2 linked regions of the Homo sapiens genome follow. The protein of the gene in region 2 interacts with the protein of the main gene of each other region in a pairwise test. Each region holds a gene or a part of one and is shown on either strand. Other genes may lie near its edges.

The links. The genes of interacting proteins can lie anywhere in the genome.
Region 1: the proteins of MZT2A (region 2) and DDX3X interact in binary tests that used the Homo sapiens proteins (3 or more experiments, as listed by UniProt).

The regions. Positions count from the first base shown.
Region 1 is NC_000023.11:41,344,162-41,347,467, forward strand, and holds part of DDX3X (ATP-dependent RNA helicase DDX3X), read left to right. Parts: intron 1-77; coding exon 78-238; intron 239-1,018; coding exon 1,019-1,163; intron 1,164-1,242; coding exon 1,243-1,387; intron 1,388-2,067; coding exon 2,068-2,249; intron 2,250-2,343; coding exon 2,344-2,461; intron 2,462-2,697; coding exon 2,698-2,851; intron 2,852-3,150; coding exon 3,151-3,290; intron 3,291-3,306. UniProt on the Homo sapiens protein: Multifunctional ATP-dependent RNA helicase. The ATPase activity can be stimulated by various ribo-and deoxynucleic acids indicative for a relaxed substrate specificity.
Region 2 is NC_000002.12:131,489,598-131,493,771, forward strand, and holds the start of MZT2A (mitotic-spindle organizing protein 2A), read right to left. Parts: upstream 2,801-4,174; 5' UTR 2,780-2,800; coding exon 2,610-2,779; intron 2,428-2,609; coding exon 2,279-2,427; intron 1,640-2,278; exon of another isoform or gene 1,563-1,639; intron 1,296-1,562; coding exon of another isoform or gene 1,116-1,295; intron 1-1,115. UniProt on the Homo sapiens protein: Required for the recruitment and the assembly of the gamma-tubulin ring complex (gTuRC) at the centrosome.

The DNA.
Region 1 (3,306 bases), on a different chromosome or scaffold from region 2:
CATTGATTCTAATTAAATGTTTTATGAACATGTAAAAATTTTGACCTTGAAGTTCATAACATTTTTTTTGCTTATAGTTTTCATACCGATCTAGAGTTCGTCCTTGCGTGGTTTATGGTGGTGCCGATATTGGTCAGCAGATTCGAGACTTGGAACGTGGATGCCATTTGTTAGTAGCCACTCCAGGACGTCTAGTGGATATGATGGAAAGAGGAAAGATTGGATTAGACTTTTGCAAGTATGTTTTATTTTGTTTTTGTTTTTTTGTTTTGTTTTGTTTTGTTCTTTTGTTTTTGGCAGAGTTGCGCTCTTGTTGCCCAGGCTGGAGTGCCATGGCGCGATCTCGGCTCACCACAACCTCTGCCTCCCGGGTTCAAGCGATTCTCCTGCCTCAGCCTCCCAGGTAGCTGGGATTACAGGCATGTGCCACCACGCTGGGCTAATTTTTGTATTTTTAGTAGAGGCGGGGTTTCTCCATGTTGGTCAGGCTGGTCTCGAACTCCTGACCTCAGGTGATCCGCCTGCCTTGGCCTCCCAAAGTGCTGGGATTACAGGTGTGAGCCATCGCACCCGGCCAAGTATGTTAATTTTTAAATGTATGGGATGCAGTATTAAAGTTACTGCCCATTAGTTTTGTGGTGATGTTAACATTGTCTAAATGTTAAGGCTGAGAAGTGATGTATTTCAGACATCTAACTTTCACAAAAAGCTTGTTCATGGTAATTTTAATGTTGAAAAATCAGTAACATCTTGGTTGAGACTTACAACAATGATCAGCTCGTGGGACAGTCAACTAGGATGGGCTAATTTGACTGTGTAATCTTGAATGACTTATGTAGTGGCAAGAATCCTGTGCTGTGTCTGTAAAATTATGCAGTGTGAGGCACCATCTTAATGAATATATAATTGTAATAACCTATACAATTGTATTTGTAATTATACTAACAGCCATACTAAAACCATGTTGATTTCTCCTCAAATTCTAAACTCAGGCTTGTTTTTTTTCATGACATGACAGATACTTGGTGTTAGATGAAGCTGATCGGATGTTGGATATGGGGTTTGAGCCTCAGATTCGTAGAATAGTCGAACAAGATACTATGCCTCCAAAGGGTGTCCGCCACACTATGATGTTTAGTGCTACTTTTCCTAAGGAAATACAGGTACTGTTTGATGTTGCAAATTTTATTTATTTAGAAATTTGTTTATCTCAGGTAATAATAAAAATTTTTTTTCTTTCAGATGCTGGCTCGTGATTTCTTAGATGAATATATCTTCTTGGCTGTAGGAAGAGTTGGCTCTACCTCTGAAAACATCACACAGAAAGTAGTTTGGGTGGAAGAATCAGACAAACGGTCATTTCTGCTTGACCTCCTAAATGCAACAGGTAACATTATGAATTTTTTATTTTATTAGACATGGGGGTTTCTCTTTGTTGCCCAGGCTGGAGTGCAGGGGTTATTCACAGGTGTGATCTCATTACTGATCAGCATGGGAGTATTTGACCTGCTCTGTTTCTGACCTGGGCCTGTTCACCCCTCCTTAGGCAACCTGGTGCTCCCTTGCTTCCGGGAGGTTACCATGTTGATGCCAAACTTAGTGTGGACACCTGATAGGCATAGTACACTACAGCCCAGAACTCCTAGACTTAGACAATCCTCCTGCCTCAGTCTCCAGAGTAGCTGGGACTACAGGCACTCACCACTGCACCCAGCTAAAATTATGAATAATTTAATTGCTCTGGTAATAACCCATTTGGGCTGGGTGCAGTGGTACAGTGCATGTAGTCCCAGCTACTTGGCAGGCTGAGGCTGTAGTATGCCATGATTGCACCTGCGAATGGCCAGTGCACTCTCAGCCTGGGCAATTTAGTGAGACCCCCATCTCTTAAATGTATTTGGATTACCTTTATTACTTTTCCTCCTCAATTCAAAACATGCTGTGTTGAAAGCCCGTTTTTAAGAAGATATATATGTATTTTAATTGACACATTAAAATTGTGCATACATAAGTGCAAAGAGAACTAAGCCATGTTAGTGACAAAAACCTATAATTTTTCAACGACAGGCAAGGATTCACTGACCTTAGTGTTTGTGGAGACCAAAAAGGGTGCAGATTCTCTGGAGGATTTCTTATACCATGAAGGATACGCATGTACCAGCATCCATGGAGACCGTTCTCAGAGGGATAGAGAAGAGGCCCTTCACCAGTTCCGCTCAGGAAAAAGCCCAATTTTAGTGGCTACAGCAGTATGTATAAACATCTTTCTTTTATTCAAATTGAGCATGTTCAAGTATTTGTTTTCTTTTAAGTGGGCCATATCTCATAAAAGTTATTTTCCAGGTAGCAGCAAGAGGACTGGACATTTCAAATGTGAAACATGTTATCAATTTTGACTTGCCAAGTGATATTGAAGAATATGTACATCGTATTGGTCGTACGGGACGTGTAGGAAACCTTGGTAAGTATTTGATTACTTGATGGTTTCATTGTTTTTTGCTGTGATGTGTGCAGGAAAGAACTTGCTAGGATCTAAAATACATTTTTAACAATGAAAGTGACAAAGATTTTGCTCAAAGCACTTGTTTAAATATTACGTGGTAATATTTTAAATATTTCTACGTAGGAAAGTAAGAATAGTAGCAAGTTACTTTATGGAAGACCTTTGTTTATATACTTTTTTGGGAACTCTTTTAGGCCTGGCAACCTCATTCTTTAACGAGAGGAACATAAATATTACTAAGGATTTGTTGGATCTTCTTGTTGAAGCTAAACAAGAAGTGCCGTCTTGGTTAGAAAACATGGCTTATGAACACCACTACAAGGGTAGCAGTCGTGGACGTTCTAAGAGGTGAGGTATAAATAGTATATAATGAGGGGAATGGGTGTTCACTTACAGTTCATAGTGTTTCCTCTGCATGCATAACGTCCAAGGTTAACTGTACAGTATTTAAAAAGCTTAATCATCTTAGGCTTCCTAGATTCTTTGGTAAGGGGTTGTATTAGAATGGGTGACACTCTGTTGGGGAAAATATGGCTGGATGGGGAATTGTTTGAATGGAAAAATTAGAAATTGGTCATTAGGAAAGAGTTAGGTTACTTTAGTGGAATTTCATCTTCATGTGAACCAACATAATTTTTTTCTTATAGTAGCAGATTTAGTGGAGGGTTTGGTGCCAGAGACTACCGACAAAGTAGCGGTGCCAGCAGTTCCAGCTTCAGCAGCAGCCGCGCAAGCAGCAGCCGCAGTGGCGGAGGTGGCCACGGTAGCAGCAGAGGATTTGGTGGAGGTAGTGTTAATCTGTA
Region 2 (4,174 bases):
GAGCTCGAGATCCGCCCGCCTCAGCCTCCCAAAGTGCTGGGATTACAGGCGTGAGCCACCGCGCCGGGCCCTGCCTGGCTAGTTTTTGTATTTTTTGTAGAGATGGGGTCTTGCTATGTTGCCCAGGCTGATCTTGAACTCCTGAGCTCAAGGAATCCACCTGCCTTGACTTCCCGAAGTGCTGGGATTACAGGTGTGAGCCAGCACACTGGTCTCACTGGTGGTTTTCCTCACTGCCTCTCACTGGACTGAGTGTGATCATCTCACTTCCCTGCCACGCCCTCTGCCCTGAGAGCTAGGCCTGGCACCCAGAGCCCTGAGTGAGTGCTAAGTGAGCAGCAACATCTCCTGGAGTGACAAGAACTCTGTTCCCAGTTTCTCCCTCCTGCTGGACACTTGCCCCTCAATTGCTCATCTCAGCCTGCAGTCCATACACCCCTACTCCAGGCCTGTCCTTCAGGCCCTCTCCACCCTCTCTTGGGCCTGAGCTCTGGGTGGCAGTGAGGTGGCCGCTGTCAGGAGGCTCATGCAGGAGGCGCGACCAAAGACCCCTGGGCTCTCACAGGCCCCTGATCACACCTGGTGACACCTGGAAAGTGTCCCAACTCAGGAGTGAGGCGGGCAAGGGGGCTGAGTGCTGGAGTGTGGCCATGGGACCAGCACATGGCATCTGTGTGGCACTGCCTGGCAGACTCTGGGAAGGTGGGAGTCTCTGTTTCAGCCTCCAGACTTCCTGTCCAGGTAGGGGACAACTTCTAAGAGGCCGAGGCGTTTGTCACGCCTGGGGCTGTGCTCTCCAGCAGAGCACACTGCACCCGGCTGGCTGTCTTCCCCTGGAGAGGGGCTCTTTACACTCACCACTAGTTCGCCTCTGGGGTGTGGGGATGTTGGTCCTGTCCCCGGATGCCAGCCCGACTGTGGGGTCTAGAGACTGCCACACCATGTCTCTAATAAACCGAGTCAGAAATAGTGCCCTGTGGCTAAGCGGCAGGGCAGCGGTGGCCTGCATGATCCTGCCCTTGCAGCTCAAAGCTGCTTGGGCCTCTTGGGGCCATGCAGTTTCCATGAAAACAAGGAAGAGCACCAACCCCCAGAGATAAGCCAATAAACGCAACCTGCAAAAGGAGAGAACAGGCAGCAAGAGAGGCGGAGGGAACCCGGGGGGCCTGGAGAGAGAGGTGAGTGTGTGGCAGCTGGGCTGTGGAGCATAACCAGAGAGGCCGCAGGCTGCGGGCTGGAGGAAAACGAGGGCCTTGCAGGGGGGCTACTGTTCCTGGCAGAGAGAAAGGAGGCCTCTGGAGGTCAGAGAGAGACACAAAGAGAGCAGACAGAGCGAGGGTCAGTGAAGAGGCCAGCACGCAGGTGCCCGGGCCCTCTTGGGTCAGCGGGCGTGGGTGCCCAGGCCCTGGCACTTCCCCCATGAAGGCAGCCTGCTTTCCACGCCTTCTCATGATGCCTGTGAGGGTCTCCTCCTGCTTCCAGGCAGGGAGCCAGCTCTGGGCCTCCTTCCATTGGCCTGGGAGGTTGTGCTGCATTTCAGAGAGAGCCATCGGGAGCAGAAGCAACATGCGGAGAGGATGAGCAGGGACGGAGGCTCCACCATGACACTCTCAGTCCCAGCATCTCCTCAGCCCAGTCACCACACTGGAGAGGGAGGAGGCCCTTCAGACCCCGCAGGCCTCTGCACCCTGGGAGTTCCGCGTCTAACTCTCTTCCTGCAATCATCAGAGGCAGGAACTGGGCCCAGGTGGGGTAAAGGCAGGAAGACGTCTGCCTGCCCTGCTCCCTGGGCACTTCCCTGGATGCTGTATACCACAGGACAGAGATCGAGACTGTCTTTTGAAAAACATTTAGAGACAGGATCTCACCCTGTCACCCAGACTGGTCTCAAACTCATGGCCTCAAAGGATCCTCCCGCCGTGGGGTCCCAAAGATTATAGGCGTGAGCCACGGCGCCCAGCCCCAAACCGTCTTGATTCCCGACTTTGTAGGATGAAGGCCTGAGTGAAGAGGTGGGGAGGAGCTAAGCGGAGGAGCCCTACCCAGCCTGGACCACCCTGGGGCACGCACTCTGCGTCCACCTGACCTGGACGTGCCTCCTAAGGCTGGCAGCGAAGCCCAGGAGCAGAGCCCACGGATGGGCCCTGCAGGTGCTGGGCCTAGACCGACCGACAGACAGGCCTGGCCACTCAGGGCCACGCCGCCGCTGTGCCGCGCCTGCCCCCTCCCCGCCCGCCACCCCCGCCACTGGGGCAGGGACAGCGGGCCCAGCTCTGACCTCGGGTCTCGGGCACGCTCGACGTGGGCAGAGACACGGCCGCAGGGTCCTGGGGCTCGCTCGCTAGCCTCTGCCCGGCACACATGGACTTGAGCATCTGGAAGACGGCGAGGGGGGCCACGTTCAGCTTCAGCAGGTCCACCAGGATCCTGGCGGGGACAGACGCGGGGCCGGTGAGCCCTCTCCGCCCGGCGCGGCCACCTCCCTGAAGACCGGACAAGGACGGGGGCGGGGGCAGCGGGGGCTCCTCCCGACCAGCGGGCCGGGCGTACCCGGAGAGCAGAGGTCGGGGGTGTCTGGCGAGCATGCGGCCCCCACCCGCCCCGCTCACTTGAACACGTCGGGGTCGATACCGCCGCCCGCCGCCTGAGCCAGCTCGTACAGCTCCATCTCCTCGGTGCTCAGCACCTTCTTGCGCCGCAGCGCCAGCTTCTGCCGGGCCGCCTCCAGCCCCGGGGGCGCCGCCGACCCCGGCCCAGGCCCTACGCCCTGCGCCGCCATCCGCGAGGCCCGCCGAAAGGTGCGCCCCGCCCCGCCGCGCCCCCTAGCGGATGCGCCCACCGCCCTCTCCCTGCAGCGCCAGCGTCTGGCCTCCCGGGCTGCCCTGGCGGGAGCGGCGGGAGCGCGGGGACGGGGCCGCCTCCTCGGCGTCATTGGAGCCCAACAGTTAGTGGGCGCTCACGGTGTGCTGAGCGGCGCGCTAGGCGTCGGGAGTGGCATGGCGGACTGCAGGGGCCAGCTGCTTGGCGGTCAGGGCGTCCCTGATAGACTTGCATTGGTCGTGCTCGCTTAGGTGGCAGCACCCAGCCCAGTGCCAGGCATACATTGGGCGCTCAGTCAATACCTGTTTCAAGAAAGCGTGCAATTTTCTGGTCCGCACCGGTGCACCACTAGGGGTCGCTCTTCGGGGGGGGTGGGGGGCACTAATCAACAACCCTGCTTACGCGCACGCGCATTCCTTGCTAGGGAGAAAGTGCGTGAGCCCTACCTTGGGGCGCCAGAGGCCGCCACAACGCAGGCGCATTCAGCTAAGGACCACTCCCTCCCCCCGCACTCCTGCCTCGCCATTTCCCCTCCCTGGCCGGCCGGCCGGCCTTCTTCGCTTTGCGCACGTACCTTTTGAGGTAACGGCCCAAAGAGGTAGAAGCGCTTTTCCCGCCCGGCCGCGGGGCGTGGCTCTGCGCGCAGCTTGATGACGACGTTTTGGCGCGGTGGCGGAATGGCGGCTTCCACCTCTGAAGCGGGCGACGCTATGGGTCCCACAGGTGAGTGGCGCGGGACGCGCGCGTGAGACGGTCCGACGCCCTGGGGGCTTCCGCGAGCCCCTGCGGAGGCCATCTCCGTTCCTCCGCGAGCCCCAGGACTCGGGCGGCCCGGCGGCTCTGCCCAGGCCGGGCAGGCTGGGGAGTGGAGGGCCCCGGCTGAGTCTTCCTGCCACTCCTCTGGGCCATGCCTTTGTGCCACCTTCCCGCGCCGCTCGTACACTCTGTTCTGGTCCGGTAGGTGTTCGTTGAAGGTTACCCGTCGTTGAAGGAATTGAGGGAAGGAGAGCTTTGTGTTGAAATTGAGCCTTGGGCTCAACAGGCGGTGTGGGAGGAAGAGCCGGGTGTGGGTCCCAGCTCGACCCTTCCCCTGTGCGCTCCACATCTCCGAGCCTTGGTTTCGGAGGCTCCCGAAGCCCAATTCGCAGGAGAGTTGGAAACAAGTGGGCGCGTGCTGTTAAGGGAGGTCTTGGCATGACAGAATTTGCTTGGAATGATTAGCGTTGCCCAAGGGCTGTCGCTGTCAGAAAAACAAAACAAAACGAAACAAAAAAAACAAACGGGTCCGAAGCAGCTCCTGGAGAAAATAGGTGTTGGAGAGTCGCGACGAAGTGGACTCTAGGTGCATGGCACG